Homo sapiens: one gene and its partner. The protein of the gene in region 2 interacts with the protein of the main gene of each other region in a pairwise test. Each region holds a gene or a part of one and is shown on either strand. Other genes may lie near its edges.

Region 1 (3,500 bases), on a different chromosome or scaffold from region 2:
CCTTGTGGTCACAGCCGGCTGCAGGGAAGCGAGTGACGGAAGGGGATAGAGAGGGACCCCAAGCTCCGATGCCTCCTGTGGGGAAGGCCCTTCCCTCCTGCCCCCCCTCCTTTCTTCCATCTCTTGTCCCACTTATGAACTGGATGGCAGGCAGGCATCGTTTCTTTTTCATGAGGTTACTGCGTCTGGGGAAAATCTAGCTGCCCGATTCCTACAAAAGCCTTGAGTGAGGCCTCACATGGCAGCACTCATGAAGCAGCCATCGCAGGCTCCCTGGACAACCCCCAGACCTTTGTAGGTGTTGGGCCACAGGGGTCATATCACCTGTGCCTCTCCATTTTTCTTTTCTTTCTTTCTTTTTTTTTTTTTTGAGATGGAGTCTCGCTCTGTTGCCCAGGCTGGAGTGCAGTGGTGTGATCTCGGCTCACTGCAACCTCCACCTCCCAGGTTTAAGTGATTCTCCTGCCTTAGCCTCCTCAGTATCTTGGATTACAGACGTGCGCCACCATCTCTGGCTAATTTTTGTATTTTTAGTAGAGACGGGGTTTCGCCATGTTGGCCAGGCTAGTCTCAAACTCCCGACCTCAGGAGATCTACCCACCTTGGCCTCCCAAAGTGCTGGGATTACAGGCGTGAGCCACTATGCCTGGCTAATTTTTGTATTTTTAGTAGAGACAGAGTTTCACCATGTTGGCCAGGCTGGTCTCGAACTCCTGGCCCCAAGTGATCCACCTGCCTAGGCCTTCCAAAGTGCTGGGATTACAGGCGTGAGCCACTGCACCCGGCTGACCTGTGCCCCTCCTTGAAGCTGTCATCCACTGATCTCCAGCAGCCTGGACAGTCACAGGGGACTTTGACACCTGACTCAGTTCTCCCCACCCCCACTCCTGCTACCCTCCCAGGTGAAGTCAACAGACATATAACGGTCCACCCAAGACGGCCTCTCGGTTCCTTGAGGGCTTTGTCATCATCCACTGTTTCTTCACATCACAAACACATCACCCCTCTGTGGCCACCTCCTGTTCCTTCGGGGTGCTCAGGACCTCACCTTCCTGATCATGGTCATTTGGCTTTATTAAAATTAAAAAACAAAAACAAAAATGGGTCCTCACTTTGCTACCCAGGCTGGAGTACAGTAGTGCGATCATAGCTCACCATAGCCTTGAGCTCCTAGGCTCAATTGATCCTCCCGCCTCAGCCTCCCAAGTAGCTGGGACTACAGGCATGCCACCTGGGTAATTTTTTTCATTTTTGCTTGTTGTAGAGATGGGGTCTCACTATGTTGCCCAGGCTGATGTCAAACTCCTGGATTCAAGCGATCCTCCTGCCTCAGCTTCCCAAAGTGCTAGGGTCACAGGCATGAGCCACTGTGCCTGGCTGGCCTCTTAATTTTAGAGAGACCTCCAGGGTCTTGATCTTTCTATTCTCTCCCACTATTTCCTCCTCGATTGACTTAACTGACTGCAGGGCTGACCACCCAGCCTGCTCCTCTGCACCCTGCGTGGCCCTGCATCCCCGGCTCTGCACAGCACTATCTTAGAAAACTCCACCTGTGGCTCCAGCCTCACCTGGGCCCCCAGACCACTTGATACTCTTTGGATTGGCCTTTACCAGCTCCATCTCTCACCTCCTTAGTAACTGCTGCAAACATCCAGCCCCCTCCTCAAGCCACTGTGTCAGCTCCCAGTGGCAGACCACCTCTCTCCTACCTCCTGACAAAGCCAGGGCCTTCCACCATGAATGGCTTCAACCTCTGGACTCCGACCTGCAAACCCACCTACCCTGCTACCCTGCTGCCCTGAAGCCTCAGAGCAAGTGTCCCTCCTCCCCGTCAGGATGGACTGCCCTTCTGGGAGGTGCAGCTCATTGCTGCCCACGCGTGGGAACCCTCACACCACAAATGATCCAGCCTCACGCTCTCACTCAGCTCTGCAGCCTCGGAACCTTCACACATCCTGAAAGAGCTCTCCCAGGCCCCTCCAGCTACAGCCCATCGCTCTCCTTTTGTTTCCAGCTAGCCTTCGAGAACACTCGCTATGGCCACACTCTCACGGCAGGTCTCCTCAATCCACGGCAATCTGACTTCTGCCTCTGAAAAGCATGGCTTCCCCAACTCAATTTCTTTTTGCGGGGGCGGGCGGGGTGGGGGGGGACAGGGTCTTGCTCTGTTGCCCAGGCTGGAGTGAAGTGGCGCGATCCTGGCTCACTGCAACCTCTGCCTCCCAGGTTCAAGCGATTCTTGTGCCTCAGCCTCCCAAGCAGTTGGGACTATAGGCTTGCGCCACCACGCCTGGCTAATTTTTTGTATTTTTAGTGGAGACGGGTGTTGCCATGTTGCCCAGGCTGGTCTTGAGCTCCTGAGCTCAGGCAATCTGCCCCCATCAGCTTCCCAAAGTGCTGGGATTACAGGCATGAGCCACCACGCCCTGCCCCGACTCAGATTTACAAGCTGATGATCATTATTCATGATGACATTATTGGACAGCTTTCACTGGGGGAAACAGGCGGCCAGGCACTATGACTGGTGGGGAGAAGGATGGGCAAGATACAGCACGAGGGCCCGGAAAACAGGGCCCTCTCAAGTCCCTGGTAGAGGCAGGTGAAGCTCCCGTCTACCCACACTTGAACCGTGAGCTGTCACCATTACCCATCGGTGGGTTCACACAGCCCCCTGCCCTCCCTCTTTGCGCTCTGGCCTTCCACGCCCCCTGTGTTCCTTGCACGCCCATGTCTCTCCCCAGCTAGGCTGCAATCTCCGTGGGAACAGAGGGGTTCCTGTCTTGAATCCCCTACAGATCTTTGCATAGTGCTGGGTCCTCCATAGGAATCAGGAAATGCTTACAGATCTGTAATTAACCTATCACCTGAGTAAGAAACCACACATGCTTCTAAGGTGAATCAGCAGATGGAAAGGTAAACAGGCCATCTTCTCCAGGAGCTTCACCCCTGTCCTGGCTATCTTGTGGATTCTGTTCTTTATCAAACCATCTTTTTACACAGGGGAGTACAGAGACAGAATGCAGTTTAGACAATATCAGTATAAGGTCCCCTCTAGCTAGTTCCATGACTCAGGAACTGTGTATTTGGGAAGCCTGAGGTCACAGGGTTGGAAGCCCTCGACTGTCCACTGGTTCACTGTTGAGGGCTTCGGTTCTGTTTCTGCTTGTGAGCAGCTCATCTGTTTAAACCTGGGTTGTCAACCTAACCAGGGTGGGAAGAGTCACTTGCCAAGCATGGTGCTAATGGCTCAGAGCCATGTCTATAAAGCTTAGTACCCTGCAAGGTAGGTATCATTTTTATTATTTTTTATTTTTTGAAACGGAGTCTTGCTCTGTTGCCCAGGCTGGAGTGCAATGGCATGATCTCGGCTCACTGCAACCTCCGCCTTCCAGGTTCAAGCAATTCTCCTGCCTCAACCTCCTGAGTAGCTGGGATTACAGGTGCGTCCCACCACGCCTGGCTAATTTTTTGTATTTCTAGTAGAGACGGGTTTTCATCAC
Region 2 (3,500 bases):
TCATTGAGCCATATAATATTCAATGAAAAAAAGGTTTTGGGATGTTCAGCTAGCATTTAATTAGGACATACCATATTTAAAAAGCAATTAAAAATAAAATTAAGAAAACAAGAGAAAAGGGCCCATGCTGTATAGCCCATGAATCTCATCGGCTTTATCATGAAAGTTTATTGTTTTTAATCCTAGTACAATCAGCTACCAGTTACATACAGTAAAAAACAGAAACAGCCACAAAGCAATGATGATAGAGATAGTCTGTGACATTGTACAGTGGAGGAAATACTCTCTGTTGGAATCCTCCAGCAGACCCCCGCCTGGCTTCAGCAGTTAAGCTATCACTCCCTCCCTCCCCAAAACAGTTAAAAGAAAAATTAACGTCTTGCTTGGGTACAGCAAGATTCTAATACCTCTTGGGGACACTGGAGAACTTTAAAAAAAACTAAAGCAGTAGAAACAAAACAAGAACTGAAACGTGGAAGCAAGGTGACACACAAAGAAGCTCCGCGAGGCCTTGGCTTCAGACCACCTCAAAGCGAACCACCTGGAAAGAAAAGAAAAGGCTGTCACACCTGGAAAGAACAGGCAAAAAGTTCAGTAGCCCTTAGTATAACATCATTTCAGTCCTTCCCAAATCTATAGAATTCAAGTTTTTCTCAAGGTTTTTATTTTTATAAGTGAGCCAGCTTGCAGAAAATGGCTTCCTTTTCTAATAGTATTGTAAATGTTAACAACTAGTACATACTTACTCTTTCAGAACTATAAAATAACACAAGAAGAGAGCATTTTTAGCAAAATATGCTGTCTTCTTTATCTCAAACCCTTTGAAGCAACCACACAGTAGGCTATTTATATGACTGTGTACTCTTACCTTAGAGGAATAATGACTCCGTTCAAAAACTAAGTCTCATATATATTTGGTTCGATTGAGGGCTTTTTCAGCCAGGTGACCACTTTCATCTGTGATCTTCTCCCAATCAGTCTGTCCGACCACAAAACCTATGGCCCTTTTCCTATCTGCATCCTTCTTCTCTTCCAGGTCTGCCCATCTGACCTAAAAAGAACATAGCATTAGGCTGAGCTTTAGGAAAAATAAATATGCAAAGAGCCCCCTCCCTCTCTGGACAGTCTAAGGGGTAGAATGACTCATTTGAAACCGCAAGTTTAAAAAATTAAAAACTAACCCAGGAAAACTGGGAAAAGCCATATATTTTAAGTCACAAAGAGAAAACTCTCTGGACAATCCAAGTCCTAACCATTCCAGCTCCTGAACAGTTCAGCTCAATCCTGTCCTCTCTTTCTCCTCTGCCATTCCTTTTTATTTAATAATTCACTGACCTCATTTTTTTTTCACCTGAAAGCAAAGCACTAATCTCTACCTAGTCTTCCTGTCTGTACTCACCCGCTCCAGATTCATGCTGCCAGAGTGATCTTCCTAAAACACACAGTTGTGATTCATTTGCTTTAACTCCTTCCCCTACCTACCAGGCAAAGTCCAAGAACTCAGGTCCCTCTTGATCTGGCCCCAACTACACTTTCCTGCAACATCTCTGGCCAGTGCCTATGGCATTTTATACAAACAATACAGACTTCCTTCTAGCACTCAGAGCGCATCGCACCATTTCATGTCTCTATAACTCTGCATATATGTACTAGTCATTCTTCCTGAAATGTCTTTTCCCTAACCTTATCCACTTGGCATGAGTCTAGTCATCCTTCCCTGACTTACCCCTTTTTCCTTTGCCAATCAAATAATCACTGCTTTCCACAGTTAACTTCCGGATTTTGATATGTCTGCTTTTGAACTTCCACACCGTAGTATAATTATCCACTTACAGATCTGTCTTCCCTAACAGACTATCAACACCCTAGATCAATAACTGAATTTTATTTATCTCTACACAAAAATATTTCTTGAAATTTAATCTTAGAGAAAACAGTAAGCTGGTATTATTACTTTCATTCATGAGATAAAGAGACCAAGAAACAGACTCAACTGATATAATTCATGGCAAGATTACAACTACAAATATATGGATCAGGGATATTTCCTATTGGTATTCTGATTTTTAATATATATATATTCTTACATATTATGCTTTTTAAAAATTTTTGTAATTTTTTTTTTTTTTTTTAGAGTCAGAGTCTCACTATGTTGCCCAGGCTGGTCTCAAACTGCTGGACTCAAGCAATCCTCCTGCCTTGGCCGCCCAAAGTGCTAGGATTACAAGCATGAGCCACCATGCCCAGCCACATATTATGTTAATATGTTTTTAAAAGTATATGGAGATATACATATTCTGTAAAAGTTCAGATTCTTAAAAAGAAACTATGAATCTGTTGCTTGCACTACACAGTATCAAAGACTGCAGAGAATGTATTTTAAACATGGCTTGTGATTTATTATCTGTGACAAGGAGAGAGAACCAGAGCATGGAAACACCATGCTCTTTACACTGAACCTGGGAATGCATTATTGCTCTAATGTACACTAATTACCATTTGCATGACTAGCAATGAAATAACTAGGCTTTTAACAGTATCACCTGGTCAAAGGGAGGAGCCAAAGTAATAGCAGTGGGAAGAAACTGGTAACATCTGACTTTCCAGAAAGTAGGTTTTTAGTGTATAGAAAACCTATGGCTCAATGTCTTTCATGGGCTTTAGTAAGAAGCCTAATAAATAATGTGGGCTTCAATATAGAAAAATCTTTGGGCATTCTGCTCATCAATGCTGAAGTACCTATTTTGATTAATTCATATATACAGCCAGGCACAGTGGCTTACACCTATAACTCCAGCACTTTGGGAGGCCGAGGCCGGCAGATCACGTCAGCCTAGGTGTTCAAGACCAGCCTGGGCAACAAGGCGAAACCGTGTCTCTACTAAAAATACAAAAATTAGCTGGGCATGGTGTGTGGTGGGTGCCTGAAATCCTAGCTACTAGGGAGGATGAGGTGGGAGAATTGTTTGAGCCTGGGAGGCAGAAGTGGCAGTGAGCCAAGATCACACCACTGTACTCCAGCCTGGGTGACAGAGAGACCCTACCTCAATAATAATTAATTAATTAAATTTAATTCATGTATATTCTCTCAGCTCCACCTGGATCAAGGATACACATTTTAGCGAAAGATCATTACGAACTAAGTCTTGGGCATTTATGTGAAAACACAATACTGTGCTCAGGATGCCGTGGGAATGGATTTAAATTTGCTGTGGGCTGGTTACTTTTTCTTTGTTCAGTGGCCACAGTTTGCCCCTTATATGGTAAGGCTCATTGAATAAAGAAAAAGTAAACAGCCCACAGCAAATTTAAATCCATTCCCACGGCATCCTCAGCACATAGTTAAATATACTTATCAACCTCAGCACATAGTTAAATATACTGATCAATCTCACCTTGCTACTTTTAAATCTACAGTTTAAATTCTAAGTTTTAAACTCAGATAAAATAAAGAATATAGGATTAGAAGAAAAAATGTGTAGGTGTTTTTGAAATGAGTA

What was found. Proteins that work in one complex are often made in the same cells at the same time.
Region 1: the proteins of YLPM1 (region 2) and BMP1 interact in a two-hybrid assay, tested with the Homo sapiens proteins (one large-scale study listed by IntAct).

The regions. Positions count from the first base shown.
Region 1 is NC_000008.11:22,203,372-22,206,871, reverse strand, and holds part of BMP1 (bone morphogenetic protein 1 isoform 3 precursor), read right to left. Parts: intron 19-3,500; coding exon 1-18. UniProt on the Homo sapiens protein: Metalloprotease that plays key roles in regulating the formation of the extracellular matrix (ECM) via processing of various precursor proteins into mature functional enzymes or structural proteins.
Region 2 is NC_000014.9:74,832,816-74,836,315, reverse strand, and holds part of YLPM1 (YLP motif-containing protein 1), read right to left. Parts: intron 1,052-3,500; coding exon 905-1,051; 3' UTR 869-904; intron 542-868; 3' UTR 1-541. UniProt on the Homo sapiens protein: Plays a role in the reduction of telomerase activity during differentiation of embryonic stem cells by binding to the core promoter of TERT and controlling its down-regulation.